2 linked regions of the Homo sapiens genome follow. The protein of the gene in region 2 purifies or fractionates together with the protein of the main gene of each other region. This does not show direct contact. Each region holds a gene or a part of one and is shown on either strand. Other genes may lie near its edges.

Region 1 (9,694 bases), on a different chromosome or scaffold from region 2:
GAATTGTCCTTTTATAATCTGCATGGACATTCTTTAATAATGAAGTCCTTCTAGCCTTATAGCATTCAGTTGTACTGCTATTCTTAATAATATGCAAATTAAATAAATACTTATGTCCCAATTGGCTTTAATACAAATTTCCCAGAATATGGATTTAACAATCATAATCACTATAAATGTCTCACAAGCCATTAAGTGGTGACAAATGTGATATAACTTATAATTAGGAAAGAAAATAGTATACAAATATAAAAATACAAGGAATTTCACTGTTTTAAGTATGTCTTAAGTCAGTATTACCACTGCAATGTTAAAAATTTTAAACTTTTATTCCCACAATTCAATGCTCATCAGATGTTTTAAATATTTATATACTTGCTTAACATCAAGGAAATATTCTTAGTTCCATAATAACACCGAATAGTAACCAAAATAAAATTATATGCCATTGTTCTGAAAACACTTACTTCAGCATACTGCTGACAGTATAAGTGGTTGTGTGGATTAGTCATCATTAGTTCCTCTAAACAAAAGGCTGCTTTTGCATAGCTAAAAACACATCAAGAGGAGAAATTAATTTTTAAAGTCACAAATTTTTATCTTAGTTAAACCTTGAAATAATTTAAAAACAACTTTAGTCATGTTAAACAATTTATTCCCAATATAATTTACATAGCTTTATTAATAAAGTATTTGTCATCTGAAATTCATAAATATCAATGACATTAAATTTTATCATGAAATTAATAAACACAGGCTTAAATCTTAAAGCAGCCTGCAAACAATCAATAGATACTACATTTCAAAAACTGGGTCACTCCTACTACATCCCATCACTACTAATAAGAAGGGCTTCAAGACCTTGGATCAAGCTGTATATAAAACAACTTCTGGAAGTTGACTGATCATTTAAAAAAATATTCAAACAGCTAATGTGTAAGGAGAAAATAAACATTTTATTAAATATTCTCTACTCACTAAAAATTCTTCACAGGCATATATTTACCAACATATTCTATTACAAAGATTTCTCTCATTACTTAAGTTCACTGTCAAATACCAAATTATAATGAAGTTATAAATTTCTAAGCCCATGAAAAACAGATCAAGTTGGTTTTGATATATACTGTACTATTATTTAATCTTGTGGTAGAATAAACAAAAATCTTGCTGAAAACCTAAGGAAAGAGAACTGCCAGAAAGAGCTCTGGAAAAACATTTTAAAGCATGTGACTGTAATTCACTAAATATATTTTAAACGTTTAATGCCATGTGACTATCCTCACTATCTACAGGAAATTCTAATGAACACAGGTGTTACAAGATTTCTTCCCAGTGAGGAAGTGATGACACTACCCAACAAAAAGAGGCTACCTAAAGTTATTTTTGGCATTTACCAGTATACAAAGGGATCTACCTTTACACTACTGCCTGATATACTTTTAAAAATTATTTTCCTGTTTCACACATGTATACTAATAATAGCTTTTACTAAATGCTTATTACGTGTCATGCATTGTTCTAAATGTGTTACATGTATTAACTCATTTAATCCTACCAAAACCCTAGGAAGAAGGAAATTATTATCAACATGCTAGAGCTGAGAATACTGAGGCACAGAGATGTAAACTGAATCCCAGGCTGTGCCACTCCAGACAGCCTGTACTCTTCAACCACTACATATGCTGCTTATATGCATTACACATCACATTGAAAAACTGAAGATGTCAATGGTAACATGAAAATGTGTACAGCAGTCACACCCAAAGGGACTGAGGAAAAAAAATACACCCTGCAGATTACCTAATAATTACAGCATTTTAGATTTATGAAGGACCACATATATATATGTATGTGTGTGTGTGTGTGTGTGTGTACTCTCATCCAAGATCATGCAGCTATTTAGCCCTTTCCATTTTTAAATTCAAAACCTAGCATTGGTTCTTGACACATGATAGGTATTTAATAAGACTGAACAAATGATTGAATAAATGTCTAAAACAAATGTGTTATGACTACCTACCTAATATATATTTATCACTCGAAAAGAAAAGGGAAAATTTGTCTCTACCTTAAACACTTTATCAAAAGACAGTTCTCTTCTAAATGTGTTCCTTTAATTATTAATAGTATGATGCCAAAAATTCATATTGAGACTAAGAATAAAAGTTCTTAGACATTTAAATGGGTTGAGCACAACTGTGACACTGGTGCATAAAGCAAGATAAAATGGGCAGGTAGTAGCAGCTCTTAGGGTAAAATGAATACCAAGATATTTTCTCAAAAATCAATTAGCATCACATATGAGAAAAGGACTCCTTCCCCCAATTTTATAAAGTACAGTATCAAACTAATTTTGTGGATAAAATATAGAATTAAATAAAATTAGAGCTAGAAGGAGCTCAACAGATGGTCTAGTCCAGCTTTTCTAGGCCATTGTTAGGCCACGCAGAAAGTGACTATTTCCTCAGTCTTGTCAGGGATAATACATAGCCAGTACTATTCTAGGTGCATAGAGAAGTTAATTCATTACACACAGTGACTCAACAAGACTAAGAATAGAGAAGTAAAAATAATTTGAATCTACTTAAAACAGAATAACAATTGTTATTACAATATTAGAGTCAGTACTAGAACTAAATAAAGTTTTCTTCTCTTCCTTACAAAAGTATATATAACTAAAGGTTACAGTATTTGGTACTGTGTGTTACTTTACCAACATCACAATTTTTCCTTAAAGAATTGTGGTAATTCCGTTGATATGGAATTTTAAAAGGCTGGACTTATGAAAAGGAACTATAATCACAATCATAATTAATGTATAATACTAACTGTTCCTTGCTGTATAGTATCTAGTTTCAATAACAAATGAAGTAAAAAAATTTGTCTTTCATAATGTGAATGTATTTTTGCTTACAAAGGTTGGGTATCCCTTAACCAAAATGCTTGGGACCAGAAATGTTTCAGATTTCAGAAGTTTTCAGATTTTAAAATATCTGCATTCTTACTGGTTGAACATCCCTAACGCAAAAATCCCAAATCCAAAATGCTCCAATGAGCATTTCCTTTGAGCATCATGTTGGCACTCAAAGTTTCAGATTTTGGAGTATTGTGGATTTCAGATTTTCAGGTTATGGATACTTAACCTATAATACATATTGGTAGTGCTGACACAAAAAAATTAACTGTAGTTTTAAAACTTTAGAACAAGTGTCTCAATATGGTCAATGGATGTAACATATATCCCTGGAATAACTAAAAACAAACTATAAATCAGAAACAAACTTATAAAAGTAACTTAAAAATATAAAAAGGTTACATGGCACAATTCTATATCCCTTTTTCTCTCTATAGAAACATTAAATAGGGCTATATGAAAATTATACTATAGATATTTATTTGGAGTTTAAAAATTCCAGAGCTGGGCACAGTGACACACCTGTAGTGCCAGCTACACAAAAGGCTGAGGTGGGAAGAGTACTTTAGCCCAGGAGCTCAAGTCTAGCCTGGGAAATGTTGTAGACTCTGTCTCTTAAAGAAAAAAAATAGTTCTAGATATAGGCTACCAAAGCTGCCTGCGACCTATTATACTTAAAAAAGCTTACAACTGTTCATATGCAGAAAGGAATATCGAATGTTAAATATATCTGACATTTTCGAAACTGCTACGTTTTTGCCACTGTGTCCCCAAGACTGGTGCTAAAACTGATATCCTACGATAATTTAACATTCCATCAAAAAATTCCTGCCTCCTATAATGACTTGCTCAAACATGTCAAATGAATCAAGTGAACTGATTGTAATTTTCACAGTTTCAAAAAAACCTGTAGATATGCATTTCCAGTCACCTAAACATAAATATTCCTTCTAAGTGTTCAATTAGAAAAAAAAAATGGTCATTTTGTAACTAACTAGCTTTAAGACCAAAAAGAGTTTTGTGATACTAGATAAAAGGGTAGGCTGACCATAATTATCATTTTCTCTAAAAAAATATTTTTAGGTGCTCCTACATCTTTGTAAATCTTCATTTTTTGAGATTTCTCAGTTCATTTCTCTTAAGTGTACATTCACCTCTGTTTCAATAAACTCTTTAGATTCCAAACAAAGCAAAACTGAAGGTGGTACCACATGGTGAAAAAAATAAGTAAATTTAATGGTAGGTTAAAAATAAGGTATAACCTAAATTTGATGATGAAATAAATATTAGAAATACATGCAAAAAAATAAAATTGCAAATGAAGTAGGGGGAAAAGGTGATATATTTTTAAGCTATTAAAGGACAGCAGACATGATAATGTTAAAAATTGATGAATCTGATTTTCTAAAAATGTAAAGTTTCTATAATTTTAAGAAGTCAGTATTTAAAAAGCATATAACAAGGATATACTTTTGACAAATGGTTGCTCTCCTTTATAAAAAGAGCTCGTAAAAATGAACTAAAAAGGTAGAACCAATTTCACCTATCAAACTTGTAAAGATTAAAAAAGAATCATAGTATCCAGTGTTGTTAAAGAGGGACTCTAGTAAATGCTGGTGTGCAAGTAAATTGATGTTACCATTCTAGGGAACAATCAGGAACTATTTATCAAAACCACAGAAAATGTACATCTTATTTAATCAAGCAATTTTACTTCAAAGAATTTAACCCAAGGAAACAAAATAAAAATGATCACTACAGCATTATATATAAAAATATAAAACAACCTTTATATCTCCCTAGGAAACTCGTTAAAAATACTAGGGTAAATTAGTAAGATGAAATAATATAAAGCCATTCAAAACACACTGTAGATTGTTACAGTGACAAGAAATTTTTGAACAAAATATAACTAAGGGAAAGTATAAACTACGGAAGATAATTTTATTTTGGGCTTTTATTTTAAAAGATAAGGAAGGACAAAAACCAAACAAACTATAGTTAACTTAGGATGCTGGAATTACATGTAATTTTTGTCTTGGTCTTTATGCTTTACTGTGTTTCTCAAATTTTCTGCATTAGGTATTCCTTTAACTTGAAAAAAAAAATTTCCTTGTTGATTTGAAATGTTTTAAAATGCTTTTAGTCAGAAAATCTTTAGAAAGTACAAAAAATGTTAAATGACTGTCACCTGTTTTAGAAACAAAATAAAATTAATGCTAATTATTTTTACTATACTCTAAAAATTCAATTTCATGTATTTAAATATAAGTATTATATACTGTTTCACATGTGTAAGAAATCATGAGTATGTTTACATATGTGTACATACAAGCATATCATCTATACTGAATGTGATTCAGGAAATAATTTCCTAATCAAAACCAGAATATCTGTTTCAGAGTATAGCAGAGAACTTGAAAAACAGTTCCTAGAATATAGTATACATTCATTAAATTACAGCTATTACTTTTATTTTAGCTCCCACTTTCCTTAGACTTATGCAAATAGACTACCTCAATCCTCTAGATCACATTATATATATAGACCACAGACAATAGACAAATGTCTTCATTCTGTTTCTCATCAGTTGTTTGTAGTATGAGAACAAGGTTAAATATTCATGCACAAGAAAATGCGCATGAGAATCTGATTCTATTCTGTCAAAAAGAAGGAAAAGAAACAATGTCATATACTTCAGATTTAGAAGAACTAAGAAAAAAAATAAAAAACACGCCTCTAGATGGAGGTTAGCATTAATGCTGTAATATTAGAAAACTTGCACTAAGACTCTGGACTAATCCTCTCACACTGGGATTTCCTCCTGTCACTACAGCAATAAAAAAGCTAACAAAAACATTAAACATCCAATAAGCAAGATCCTAGAGCATTCAACATTCTTGATTATTCTCAGTTTTTTACCCAGGCAACAGAATGCTTCTACTTTGGAAGAGTTGATTCTCTTAGTACTAAGGCTAATACATGCATACAATTGACAGAATTTTTAAACAGCAGGGAGTATAATACTCTTTGTATATAAGAACAATCTGAACTCTAAAAATTCACAATTTTGATTTACCAAAAATAAACTTAGCTTAGCAAATGCAGGCCTTTTTATTTCCAAAGAATGCCATCTATATTTGAAAGAAAAACTTATTTCCTAAACATAAACAATTTGGCAAAACACAAATGACCTAGTTAAAGCTATTCACTTATTATGACCAGTGAATTACTGATTTGTTCTTTTTCATTTAATTGTTGATTTGTTCTGTTTCTCATTTCAAATGACATGATTCACACCCTCTCACCAATCCTTTGGAAACCACAGTGCTTTCTGAACTTACAGTGATGAAAACTGCACTCAACAAAATGTTGTGTGTTTAATAACTTACTCATGTTCATTGATGTAAAGTTCTGCAAGTTCATGCCAGGCTTCTTGGTCTCCAACAAATCTGGTGAGAGGAAAAGAAAAAAAAGTAAGTGTGTAGATATTCTGTAAATGAACAGCATGAAAACAAACAGGAAAATCAAATGCAAATTCCATTTTAATTAAAAAAGATTTATCAGAATAACAAAACACAATCCTCTTGTAAAATACTCACTGTTCCAGATACTCATTCAGCTCCCGAATGGCCTCCACATTTTTCCCCTGGGCTTTTCGAATGGCAATCTTACGCTTTCTTGCAGCCTGTGGGTTGACATTAATAAAGGATTAGGCCCTTATGATTCCTTGGGGTTTTGTAAAGAAGGTAATTTGACTGTGCAAATTATTATCTCAATGCCAGAGAAATTCCATTGTAGAACTACTGCTTAGTGGGAGTTTATAAACATACCCCATGACATCCCACTGGGGAATTCAAACATTCCTCTAACAATCACATATGCTTTACTTTTGATGCACACAATGTATGCATCGTTTCATCCAAATAAATAATCATCCAGATTCTGATAATTATTAACCAGCAGGGAATCTTAATCTTTATCCAACTTAAAGCCCTTTACTCTGTCTCATTCATAAGATCTGTATCCTAAGAGGGGGAGGAACAGTGGAGATTAGGGGAAAAAAAATCTCACCATGGCATGGCCTTTGAATATCATTATATAAATATGTCTTCTGACAACTTTTTCACAATTTTAAGAGAAAATCTACCTATGAGTCTTTCACAAGAATAATACAGTCCTGAAATAAATATTGTATGATAAGCAAAACAATTAGAAGCTGTATTCTAAAGTTTTTAAAATGATAAACATAAAAATCAATGCCATTTATTGTGCATTCATCAAATATGTACCAGACTTCTACTGTTTGCCAATATTGTGCTACACAATGAAAATATAAAGATAAAAAAGAAATGATAATTCCTTGCAGAAGCTCATTCTCATGACAAAAACGTATCAAATAAAAAAGTTAATGCAGTAAGAGCAATGACAGGGATATCTAGGGTGTTATGAAAATAAGGAAGAGATTCTGACACATGCTGTGTCAGAGTGGACGAACTGGAAAGACAGAAAGCAAAGACGGTCCCACATATGATACGTGTACTGAAACAAAGAGTAAGTAGACATTAAAAAACAAAACAGGAAGTTATTTATGGAAACTGCATAGTGGGAAGAACACATGAGCAAAGGCCTAGGAGAAAGCAGTACTGGCTGAAGTAAACAGTCAGGGACTGGAGCATACTGTATAAATTATTAAATTTACGTCCTCTCTATTTATGTTTGCTTCAAATACAGAAGGATAAACAATAAACCATACTATAACTGAGGCCAAGCTAAACTTATTAATTATGAATAAAATTTCTTATTGTTGATATAATATTCCACAAGATGCAGACAGAAGTAAAATGGATGTGGTCTCTTTACAGTATCAAGAGCTACTCATTACGGGGTGGTAAGAGAGTGATTTGGCTCTGAAGAAATGAAAGTGAAAGTTTAGAGAAATCAAGAGACTAATAAATAAGGGTCAGAGCAATGTTTATAATATTTTGGGTAATTAAAAAATGATGTTTTAATAATATATATCCTTAAGCATATCCTGAGAGTAAAAAAAATAAAAAATAAAAAAAGAATCTATATCCTTAATTAATCAGGTCATGGCAAAGGCCTTTAGCACAATGCCTGTCACATAGTAGGCACAAGCAAATATTTTTAAAATAAGTTTACTAAGTAAAACAAAAATGTGCCACAATAAATGCAAAGTTTTAAAAGTCTCAAGAACTCAGAAGAAAAGTAAAAGTAAAGCTCTGAAAGTAACTCAAACCCTAAAGCCATTAAGAATTTTAGACTTAAAATGGGAGCATTGTCCCTAGTCCTCCAAATAGATGAGGGATAAATTAACATATAATCAGGAAACTTTCGGCCATTTAATATCTGATTTCACCAAAATCTGAAACATAATTTAATCTTTCATTTTTCATGACATTACTTCTTCCATAGACAATATACAGAGCATAATGTCTGTTTTGAAATCCAAAAGACAAGAAACTGAATCCCAACTCTTATCACTTACTAGTTTTAACCTCTACAAACCTCAGTAATACCATCTATCTTCAAGCATCAATATAAAGCAACTAACACAGCATATAATAATATTAAATAAATGTTATCTTCCTTTCTTTAACATTTGGTTCTAGACTTAATGTTTACGTGTTAAACCTTGCCACAAAATTCTAACTAAGCAATCTTTAAAGGACTGGCACAGACTTGCTTTATTTGATATTTATATCTTGTCCCAATCCTTACAGGATTTGCAACAGCAGAGATGAGATACTGTAAGCAGTGAAAACTTGTTGAAAACAGTTGGATTCACCTGGGAGCAGTGGTGCATGCCTGTAATCTCAGCACTTTGGGAGGCTGAGGTGGGAAGATCACTTGAGCCCAGGAGTGAGAGACCAGCCTGGGCAACATAGTGAGACCCTGTCTCTACAAAAATAAAAATAAATAGACATTTTTAAAAAAGAAAATATTGCATACAAATGCCACAAATCAAACAAAAAAATTAGCTGAGCGTGGTGGTGTGCACCTGTAATCCCAACTACTTGGGAGGCTGAGGCAGGAGAATCAACTGAACCCGGGAGGTGGAGGTTGCAGTGAGCTGAGACTGCGCCACTGCACTCCAGCCTGGGCGACAGAGCGAGACTCGGTCTCAAAAAAAAAAAGCCACTTAAAGTCTTAAAGTTTTGCCACATAATTCAAAGCATATCTAAAATTTTAAACAATATACAAGGTATCATACATAAAATAACCAATTATAATAACAAAAACACTGGTTCAAAAAACTAAGATAAAAATAGAAACGCACATCTTAGTTTCCACGCATTCATACCAAACAGTACTGGACACTGAAGGAAGTATCTACTGCAGATCGGTAGCTATCTGCAGAATAAATGAATACATCACAAATTTTACAATTGGAAAGAACTGAGGAGCAGGCAGTGATAATTACATCTCTTCATTTTACATAGACAAAAAACAAAGCCCAGACTTACATTGCAAATCCTGGGACTCCTGAATCTGTTCATGTCTCTTTTTTGCCATAGTCTCTTGCTCTCTGGACACTTAATACTCAGCTGTCCAACTCCTTATTCATATAATGTCTAACTGTGAATAAAGAGTCCAGCAGCTTATCTCCCAAAAGCCACACAAAACCCTAGGTTTTGAATGATTATCAAGCAACCAGAATGAGGTTCAACAAGGCTTCTTGTGGCTTCTGGGTCTCATTTAGGGCACACAAAAAAGGCTTGTAAAAAAGACCAATTTTGGCCAGGTGCAGTGGTT
Region 2 (9,694 bases):
CGAGACCCTGAGTTCAGGTGGTGCCAGGTGCTCTGAGGGGAGACGCAGACAGCGTGAGAGGTGGAGGTGGGTAGCTTTTGTGAAGTGCTTGGGGACAGTCTTTGCGATGGTGTCCTTGAAATCGAGACCTGAACAACAGGAAGGAGCTGCTATGAGCTGAGTCCAGGGCACAGAGTCTTGGAGACCAGCCTGTGCCCGGCCAGGCTGACACCGTTTTCGACAGGAGGCCCTGGGGCTTGTCACTGCAGCTTATCCACGATACTTAGGATGGGGACAGTGATGCATTGGCGTGGGATGCAGGGAATGCCTGAATCTGGCTGGAGTCTAAGGGGTGGAGGGGACACTGGTTGGGAGGCCCCGAGAAAGCGGCTCACGTCTCCAGCTTGAGGACCCTGTAGCCACCCTGTGGCTCCAGAGGTCTGGGCTCAGCGGGACCCTTGGACCACCTGTGCCACCAGGGAGGCCTCAGCCGGGTCCAGCTCCCAGCCTCAGCGGCTGATTCACACCTGCCTTGCTCCCGTGTCAGAGTCCATATCAGCAGACAGCTGGAGGTGGAGCCCGAGGAGCCGGAGGCGGAGAACAAGCACAAGCCCCGCAGGAAGTCAAAGCGGGGCAAGAAGGAGGCGGAGGACGAGCTGAGCGCCAGGCACCCGGCGGAGCTGGCGATGGAGCCCACCCCTGAGCTCCCGGCTGAGGTGCTCATGGTGGAGGTAGAGAACGTTGTCCACGAGGACTTCCAGGTCACGGAGGAGGTGAAAGTGAGTCCGTGCGTCACGCAGGGCGGCCACAGCTGCCTCCCCCACGGGCTCCCTTGAGCCGTTCCTGCGGCCTCTCCGAAGAGTCATCTCCCACCCTGAGCCCCTTAGGAAGGGTCTGGCCTGTCTGGAACTCAATTCTAATGGAACATAGAGGGTGCTTTTCCTCCCAGAGGTCTTCGGAAGACTCTGGGATGGGAGAGGCACAGGAAATTCGCTGGAGCCTGTAGCTGCTCAGGAAGGAGACAGGGTTGGAACCCAGGTCCAGCCCCAGCCCGTGTCCCCTGTGCCAAAGCCTCCAGCGGTTACCAAGACACCTTCCAGCCCTGGCTTCTTCCCACCAAGCCTGGGAGGTTGGTACCAGTGGTTGCAGGACAGGAAACAGCCTGTTGGCCACCCTGATCCCCCAACCTAGGCCGTCCTGCCTGCCTGGTGGCACAAGGAGTCAGCTTCCGAGGTGGGCAGGCTCTTGGCGGTGCCACCTGCCCTCCCGCTGTAGGGACAGTCAGCGAAGCTAACCAAAGGCCTGAAGCGTGTCAGCTCCTTACCTGTGTGCCTGGTGTCATCAGCCTCTTCCCCAGGCTGCTGCAGGGCCTAGGGGGAAGTGCTGTGAGCAACTGGTGATGTCTGCTGTGGGCGCTGGCAGGGGTGGAAAGTCCTGTCCACAGGCCCACCTGGGTTCTTGAGGTCAGCACTTCTATCCTGCCCCACTACCCCTGCGAGGTTTTTTTTTTTCTTTCTTTTTTTGAGACAGAGTCTGGCTCTGTCAACCCAGGCTGGAGTGCAATGGAACGATCTCAGCTCACTGCAATTTCCACCTCCCAGGTTCAAGTGATTCTCATGCCTCAGCCTCCCAAGTAACTGGGATTGCAGGCACGTGCCACCACACACGGCTAATTTTTGTATTTTTAGTAGAGACGAGGTTTTACCATGTTGGCCGGGCTAGTCTCAAACTCCTGACCTCGGGTGATCCGCCCACCTCAGCCTCCCAAAATGCTGGGATTATAGTCGTGAGCCACTGTGCCCGGCCACCTGTGAGTATTGAGCACTTGAAGTAGAGCTGCTGTGGCCAAGGAACAGAATGGAACATTTTATTGGCTGGGTACAGTGTCTCATGCCTGTCATCCCAACACTTTTGGAGGCCAAGGAAGGAGGATCACTTGAGCCCTGGAGTTCAAAACCAGCCTGGGCAATATTGAGACCCCTGTCTCCACAAAAAAAATAAAATCCCTGGGCATGGTCGCACACACCAGTGGTCTAACCTGTGGGAGGATCGCTTGAGCCCAGGAGATTGAGGCTGCAGTGAGCTGTGATCGCATCACTGCACTCCAGCCTGGGCAACAGAGTGAGACCCTGTATCTAAAAATTAAAATAAAAAAATTCAGGCCGGGCACGGTGGGCTCACGCCTGTAATCCCAGCACTTTGGGAGGCCGAGGTGGGCGGATCACCTGAGGTCAGGAGTTTGAGACCAGCCTGACCAACATGGAGAAACCCCGTGTCTACTAAAAATACAAAAAAAAATTAGCCAGGTGTGGTGGCTTATGCCTGTAATCCCAGCTACTCGGGATTACTGAGGCGGGAGAATTGCTTGAACCTGGGAGGCAGAGGTTGCGGTGAGCCGAGATTGCACTATTGCATTCCAGCCTGGGCAACAAGAGCAAAACTCTGTCTCAAAAAAAAAAAAAAAAAATTCAGACAGCCACCAGCGGCTACACTGTCCTGGGCAGCTCAGCATTGGGGCATTCCCTGTGAGAATCTTGCAACAGGGGGAAGACAGCGACCAAACTTACAAATGTGATTAGAACTGGCAAGACCCCTTAGGGGCAGCGAACTTGTTCTTTTTTTTTTTTTTTTTTTTTTTTTTTGAGATGGAGCCTCTGTCGCCCAGGCTGGAGTGCAGTGGCGTGATCTCGGCTCACCGCAAGCTCCACCTCCCGGGTTCACACCATTCTCCTGCCTCAGCCTCCCCAGTAGCTGGGACTACAGGTGCCCGCCACCACACCCGGCTAATTTTTTGTGTATTTTTTAGTAGAGACGGGGTTTCACCGTGTTAGCCAGGATGGTCTGGATCTCCTGACCTCGTGATCCGCCCGCCTTAGCATCCCAAAGTGCTGGGGTTACAGGCGTGAGCCACTGTGCCCAGCTGAACTTATTCTTAAAGCAAGTGCCCCGGACCTCCAGTGGGCCTGTTCTGGTGCCTTCTACCAGGGTCAGCTCAGACAGTTCAGCGTCAAAGCCAAAGACTAGAGACCAGGTGATTACGGTTTCTTTGGAGACAGAGTCTCACCCTGTCACTCAGACTGGAGTGCACTGGCGCAATCTTGGCTCATGGCAACCTCCGCCTCCTGGGTTCAAGTGATTCTCCTGCCTCGGCCTCCTTAGTAGCTGGGATTACAGTCACCCACCAAAGTACCTGGCTAATTTTTTTTTTTTTTTTGGTATTTTTAGTGGAGATGGGGTTTCACCGTGTTGGCCAGGCTGGTCTTGAGCTCCTGGCCTCAAGTGACCCACCTAACTCTGCCTCCCAAAGTGTTGGTGTTACAGGTGTGAGCCACCGCGCCCGGCCAAGACCAGGTGATTAAAATTTGGTTGTAGGCAGGTGCAGTTGCTTATGCCCGTGGTCCCAGCTACTCCGGAAAATGAGCGGGGAGGATCGCTTGAGCCCAAGAATTCAAGGCTGCAGTGAGTCATGATTGCAGCCCTGCACGCCAGCCTGGGTGACAGAGCAAGACTTGGTCTTTTTTTTTTTTTTTTTTTTTTGAGACAGAGTCTCGCTCTTTCGCCCAGGTTGGAGTGCAGTGGCGCGATCTCGGCTCACTGCAAGCTCCATCTCCTGGGTTCACGCCATTCTCCTGCCTCAGCCTCCCGAGTAGCTGGGACTACAGGCGCCCGCCATCACGCCCGCCTAATTTTTGTATTTTTTGGTAGAGACGGGGTTTCACTGTGTTAGCCAGGAGGGTCTCGATCTCCTGACCTCATGATCCACCCGCCTCGGCCTCCCAAAGTGCTTGGATTACAGGCGTGAGCCACCACGCCCGGCCAAGACTTGGTCTCTTAAAAAATGGAGGAAAGAAAACACAGTCTCTTTTTTTCCCCTGAGATAGCTTATCCTAAGGACAAGGCTCTGAGGGGTAAGGAGACAGGGTTTGGTTTTAGTTTTGACTCTCTTGGTCCTGTGTCCCTGGGACTGGTGAGTCCACCAGGGACTGCACTCCTCCATCTCCCAGGCCGTCCGTGGCCAGGGCCAGTTGGCGGAGGGGAGGGAGTTGATGGAGCTGGTGGGTGGGGCTCCCAGGGCCATGCTCCCACCCAGCCCACCCCCTGCTGGAGCACTGCTGGGCCCCAGCGACCCTGCCCCATACTTGGCAGGCCCTGACTGCAGAGATCGTGAAGACCATCCGGGACATCATTGCCTTGAACCCTCTCTACAGGTGGGCCTCTGTGCGGGCAGCTGGCCAGGCGGGGGCATCTCTGCAGCTCTTTCTGCAGCTGGGTGGGTAGGGGGCTTCCTCAGCGTCCTCCTGGGAGGAAACCTTGCCTGCCCCAAGGAGTGGCCTGTGTGGAGGAGCCCGTTGCCCACTGGGGCATGGGGCAGGTGGGAGGCCCGGGGCCGACTCAGCAGGCCCAGTTTCTTTGTCCCCTTCTGCTGAGGCCGGAAGCTGTTGGTGGCATTGGCTGGGGGAGTGGGGAGCAGACTGCTGAGGTGAGGTCACTGCACGGCTCCCGTGGTGGCTGCACGTGAGGATGCTGCATGCCTTTCCAGCCCAGGACGGGTGGGCCCTGAACTCTGGAGAACAAGCAGCAGAGCTGGCTCCCAGCGAGCACCCCTAGACCGTGCCCATAGCTACAGGGGACAGGGACCCTGAGGACCGGGTCCCCGTTTGGGGGCTGCACTGCAGCAGAGCGTGAGGCCCTGGCCACCGAGGCAGCTCCCTTTGTCCCCCAGGGAGTCAGTGCTGCAGATGATGCAGGCTGGCCAGCGGGTGGTGGACAACCCCATCTACCTGAGCGACATGGGCGCCGCGCTCACCGGGGCCGAGTCCCATGAGCTGCAGGACGTCCTGGAAGAGACCAATGTGAGTGCTCGTCACCTCCACAGCCCCCCACGCCTGGCTGCACCCCACCTCCACTATGCTCCGCCCACGCCCGGCTGCCCCCGTTCCTCCTCAGCTCCCCCATGCCTGGCTGCCCTTGTCCCTCCACCGTGCACCATCCACACCCAGCTGTGTGTCCCTGGCTCTGTTTTTGAGATGATTTCCCGCTGCGTGTCTTGGTCCACATCCATCCGCCTTTCGGTGGCTTCATAGCCTTCGGTTGGGAGTCACCGTTGCGGGTTCAGTGGGATCCTCTGGGCCGTGTACCCGGGGCGTTGCCAGTCTTTTGCTGTTGTGAGCAGCACTCCTGAGCGCGTCCCCATGCACGCAGCTGGAGGGCCTGTGAAGTATCCGTAGGATGCGTTTCCAGCACGGGATTTGTTGGGGCAGAGGGCACACATGCCTCTGTGCTGGGTACAGCATGGCCAGGTCCTCCCGGCAGCATCTCTCAGGGTGCGCATTTTCCCCCAACCTCGGCCCTACACACACAGATGCCGACTTCTGCTCATCCTTTCTGTCCTCCCTGTCTCGGCAGATTCCTAAGCGGCTGTACAAGGCCCTCTCCCTGCTGAAGAAGGAATTTGAACTGAGCAAGCTGCAGCAGCGCCTGGGGCGGGAGGTGAGCCCGCGGCTGAGGCGCAGCCACTCTTGGGGGCCTTCCCCTCGGGCCACGTGACATCAGTCAGGCTCTGGAGCACACGGAGGGACCGGTGGCATCGGCCAGGGCAAGCCAAGAAGGCCTGTCTGGGTTTTGAGGGCTTCGTGCCATCATCTGCTCTGTCGTCCTGGGCTGTGGAACTCTCCGCGTTGAACAGGGAAGCTTAAAGCTGGTCCCAGTGTAATGAGCCCAGGGTGGAGCAGTCTCAGGACCGTCCAACATTAAGGGAAGAATTCCTTTGCCTTTGTAATCTTGGGGACAGTGTTGGAAATTGGAAAGCAGCCTGGGAAAAGTGAAGATGCTGTTTCTTAAGACCCAGCCATTGAGGCTCGCTGTCATGATTTTCGGCAGATCACAGCCTGCCTGATGGCCGGTCACCTCACGGTCGTAGCATTTTTCAGAATTTTTTACTTTAAGACAGGGTCTCAGTCGGCCACCTAGGCTGGAGTGCAATGGCGCAATCTCAGCTCACTACAGCCTCCACCTCCAGGGCTCAAGTGATCCTCCCACCTCAGCCTCCCGAGTAGCTGGGATTACAGGCGTGCAATACCACACCGGCTAATTTTTGTATTTTAGTAGAGACAGGGTTTCACCATGTTGGCCAGGCTGGTCTTGAACTCCTGGCCTCAAGTGATCCGCCCGCTTCAGCCTCCCAAAGTGCTAGGATTACAGGCGTGAGCCACCGCGCCTGGCCCCATCTCTACAAAAAATTTTAAAATTAGAGCCAGGTGTGGCAGGTGCCTGTGGTCCCAGTTACTCAGGAGGCTAAGGCAGGAGGATCGCTTGAGCCCAGGAGGTGGAGGCTACGGTGAGCTATGATGGTGCCTTTGCACTCCAGCCTGGGTAACACAGGTAGACCCTGTCTCAAAAACAAAAGAAGATGGAAGGAACCAAAGGCTTCGTGCTCTGGGTTTCGTTTCTTTTCTCTCTGAGTCCTGGGGGAGCAGAGGGTCCCCCTTCGTCTGGGGACGCACCCACCCACCCAGCTTCCCGGAGCCAGGGCCTGATGGCAGCACCTCACCCCACAGGTGGAGGAGAAGATCAAGCAGACCCACCGTAAGTACCTGCTGCAGGAGCAGCTAAAGATCATCAAGAAGGAGCTGGGCCTGGAGAAGGACGACAAGGATGCCATCGAGGAGAAGTTCCGGGAGCGCCTGAAGGAGCTCGTGGTCCCCAAGCACGTCATGGATGTTGTGGACGAGGAGCTGAGCAAGCTGGGCCTGCTGGACAACCACTCCTCGGAGTTCAAGTGAGTGCCAGGCCCGGGGCGGCCCAGCCCTCAGGTGACCCCTCCTCAGCCCCCATCTTAGGCAGGCCAGGGGACCCAGCGGGGAGCCCCGTGGCACCTTCTTGGTGTGGCAGGTGCGGGCTGGGAGGCATCCAGCGAGTATCAGCCCTGTTCTGGGCAGGACACATCATCACCATCTCCATTCTACAAGGAAATCGAGGCTCGGGGCTGTTGAGCTGGTGGCCAGGGCCTGTGAATTGGCAGGTGGTGCCACGGATTTGAGCCCAGGGACGCCTGGCTCTAAGCCAGGGCTGCTTTTTTTTTTTTTTTTTTTTGAAATGGAGTCTCGCTCAGTTGTCCAGACTGGAGTGCAGTGGCACAATCTTGGCTCACTGCAACTTCCGCTTTGCGGGTTCAAGCAATTCTCCTGCTTCAGTCCCCCAAGTATCTGGGACTATAGGCATGCACCACCACGCCTGGTTAATTTTTTGTATTTTTAGGAGACATGGGGTTTCACCATGTTGTTCAGGCTGGTCTCGAACTCCTGACCTCAAATGATCCGGCTGCCTTGACCTGCCAAAGTGCTAGGATTACAGGCGCGAGCCACCATGCCTGGCTTTTTTTTTTTTTTAAGACAGAGTCTTGCTCTGTTGTCCAGGCTGGAGTACAGTGGTGCAATGTTGGTTCACTGCAACCTCCACCTCCCAGGTTGAAACGATTCTACTGCCTCAACTTCCTGAGTAGCTGGGATTACAGGCATGTGCCACCACACCCAGCTAATTTTTAGTATTTTTAGTAGAGATGGGGTTTTGCCATGTTGGCCAGGTTGGTCTCAAACTCCTGACCTCAAGGGATCCGCCCACCTTGCCCTCCCAAAGTGCTGGGATTACAGGCATGAGCCACCACGCCTGGCCTAAGCCAGGCCTTCTCGCCAGGACCAGGAGTCCCCATGGCTGTCTTTGCAAGGCTACCCCTGGCTTCTGTTGCCCCTTCGAGAGTCAGCCAGGAAGTGACCATGCCTTCCCGCAGCACTGGCCTTGCCCGGGGGCCACTGTCCTGAGCATGCCATGAGTCAGGGTGGCCGCCCCAGGTTTGAGGGCCTCAGGTACCTCTGAGATCCTTTCAGCCATGCCCATGTCCAGCCAGGACAGAACCCACCTGGCCACTTCCCATGCAGCATGCTCTGTTTTCAGCCCAGGAACCAGTTGTCACGCCAGGGCAGCTTCTAGGCAGAAGTCCCCGGGGCAGGGCTGGGCAGGCCGTAGGACAGCGCTTAGAGGGAAGGCATGAGTTTCTTTCCTGGCTGCTGGCCCAGGACCCCGCCTCAGATTTGAATGTCACGGTCGCCGGAGTCTCTCCCCCAGGGCCCTGAGAGGCACTGGTTGCGCGCGAAGGCTGTGGCTTCCCCTCCCAGCACGCCCCGATTTCGGTGAGTGGCCTGTGAGCTCCCATGGCTGCTCCGACGGTGCCACAACTTAGTGCCTTACACAATGCCGAGCCCTGAGATCCCGCTGTGGGCCGGGCCCGTCCCTCCCAGAGGCTCCAGAGGAGAATCCGTTTCCTGCCTTTCCCAGTATCTGGAGGCGCCCGCATCCCTCGGCTCGGGGCCCCTTCCTCCTTCACAGCCACAGCGCAGCCTCTTCCAGTCAGTCTCTCACCTCCCACCGCCTGTCGTGAGGACCTGGTGAGGAACCTGGGCCCCCTGGGTCACCCAGAATGCTCTCCTGTCTCGGGGACCTTCACTCAGCCCCATCTGCAGTTCCCTGCTGCCATGTGAGAGGCCTGTGCCGCCGCCTCCTGTGGGGGGAGAACGTAGATGTTTTCGGGGTTCTTCTGTCTCCCAGCGAGTGCCTCAGCTGCCCTTGGGCTGGTGGAAGTACCTGCTCAGACCGGGCCTTGTCCTGCAGAAGCAGATAGCTCCTTCCCCCAGGAGCTGAGGGGGTCTGTAAGGCGGGTTCTGTCCTCAGGTCCTGGGAAGTCACGGGGGACAAGCCCTCAGTACCTGCGTGTCACCAAGATGCCTGCAGCAGGCTGCCAGCTACCTCTCCCACCCAGAATGCTCTCCGCAAAGTGTCACTGCCTGTGTCACTTCCACAGTGACTTCATGTGTCTCTAAACTCCAGCATCCGTGTGGCCCAGCTGGCCTGTCCCGGTGCGTCTCGTATGCCCGTTGGGTGGCAGTGCGCCCTGACGGTGTCTGCTCGTGGGGCCGCCTGGCCCTTCCTCGGAAGCCGTCCTCCTCTTCATCCTCTTCCCCAATCCTGCCGTGTGCTCTTGCAGCCCTCACTGACTTGCTCCTGGCCCATAGTGGCCGCTGCTCACTGCTGCACGGCTCCCAACTTGGGGACCAATATGGAGTTGCCCTCCCAACCTTCAGCGTCACTCTCCCGGCAGGGGACCTGGCCTCCATTTCCCCACCTGCCCTGGGTCAGGCCTTGTCCCATTTTCTAAGCCTCGTCCCCTCTGTGGTTCTGCTCACTCAGCCCTGGGCAGAAGCCAGTGCCGTCTTGGCTCTCCTGATGAGTCAGCAGTGGACCTCCGGCCATCTCCTCCTTCCTGCACTGGGTGCTTTGGACAGGGCAGTTTGTAAATTTTTTTTTTTTTTTTTTTTTGAGATGGAGTCTCACTCTGTTGCCCAGGCTGGAGTGCAGTGGCACGATCTCGGCTCACTGCAAGCTCCGCCTCTCGGGTTCATGCCATTCTCCTGCCTCAGCCTCCCGAGTAGCTGGAACTACAGGTGTCCGCTGCCACGCCCAGCTAATTTTTTTTTTTTTTTTTATTGATCATTCTTGGGTGTTTCTCGCAGAGGGGGATTTGGCAGGGTCATAGGACAATAGTGGAGGGAGGGTCAGCAGATAAACAAGTGAACAAGGGTCTCTGGTTTTCCTAGGCAGAGGACCCTGCGGCCTTCCGCAGTGTTTGTGTCCCTGGGTACTTGAGATTAGGGAGTGGTGATGA

The links.
Region 1: the proteins of LONP1 (region 2) and EMC2 purify together in Homo sapiens (affinity purification with mass spectrometry; 2 studies listed by BioGRID, with this or other methods). This does not show direct contact.

The regions. Positions count from the first base shown.
Region 1 is NC_000008.11:108,466,737-108,476,430, reverse strand, and holds part of EMC2 (ER membrane protein complex subunit 2), read right to left. Parts: intron 6,606-9,694; coding exon 6,520-6,605; intron 6,370-6,519; coding exon 6,310-6,369; intron 5,578-6,309; coding exon of another isoform or gene 5,448-5,577; exon of another isoform or gene 5,268-5,447; intron 550-5,267; coding exon 468-549; intron 1-467. UniProt on the Homo sapiens protein: Part of the endoplasmic reticulum membrane protein complex (EMC) that enables the energy-independent insertion into endoplasmic reticulum membranes of newly synthesized membrane proteins.
Region 2 is NC_000019.10:5,702,835-5,712,528, reverse strand, and holds part of LONP1 (lon protease homolog, mitochondrial isoform 1 precursor), read left to right. Parts: intron 1-526; coding exon 527-758; intron 759-4,125; coding exon 4,126-4,187; intron 4,188-4,702; coding exon 4,703-4,832; intron 4,833-5,385; coding exon 5,386-5,469; intron 5,470-6,536; coding exon 6,537-6,757; intron 6,758-8,310; coding exon of another isoform or gene 8,311-8,413; exon of another isoform or gene 8,414-8,798; intron 8,799-9,694. UniProt on the Homo sapiens protein: ATP-dependent serine protease that mediates the selective degradation of misfolded, unassembled or oxidatively damaged polypeptides as well as certain short-lived regulatory proteins in the mitochondrial matrix.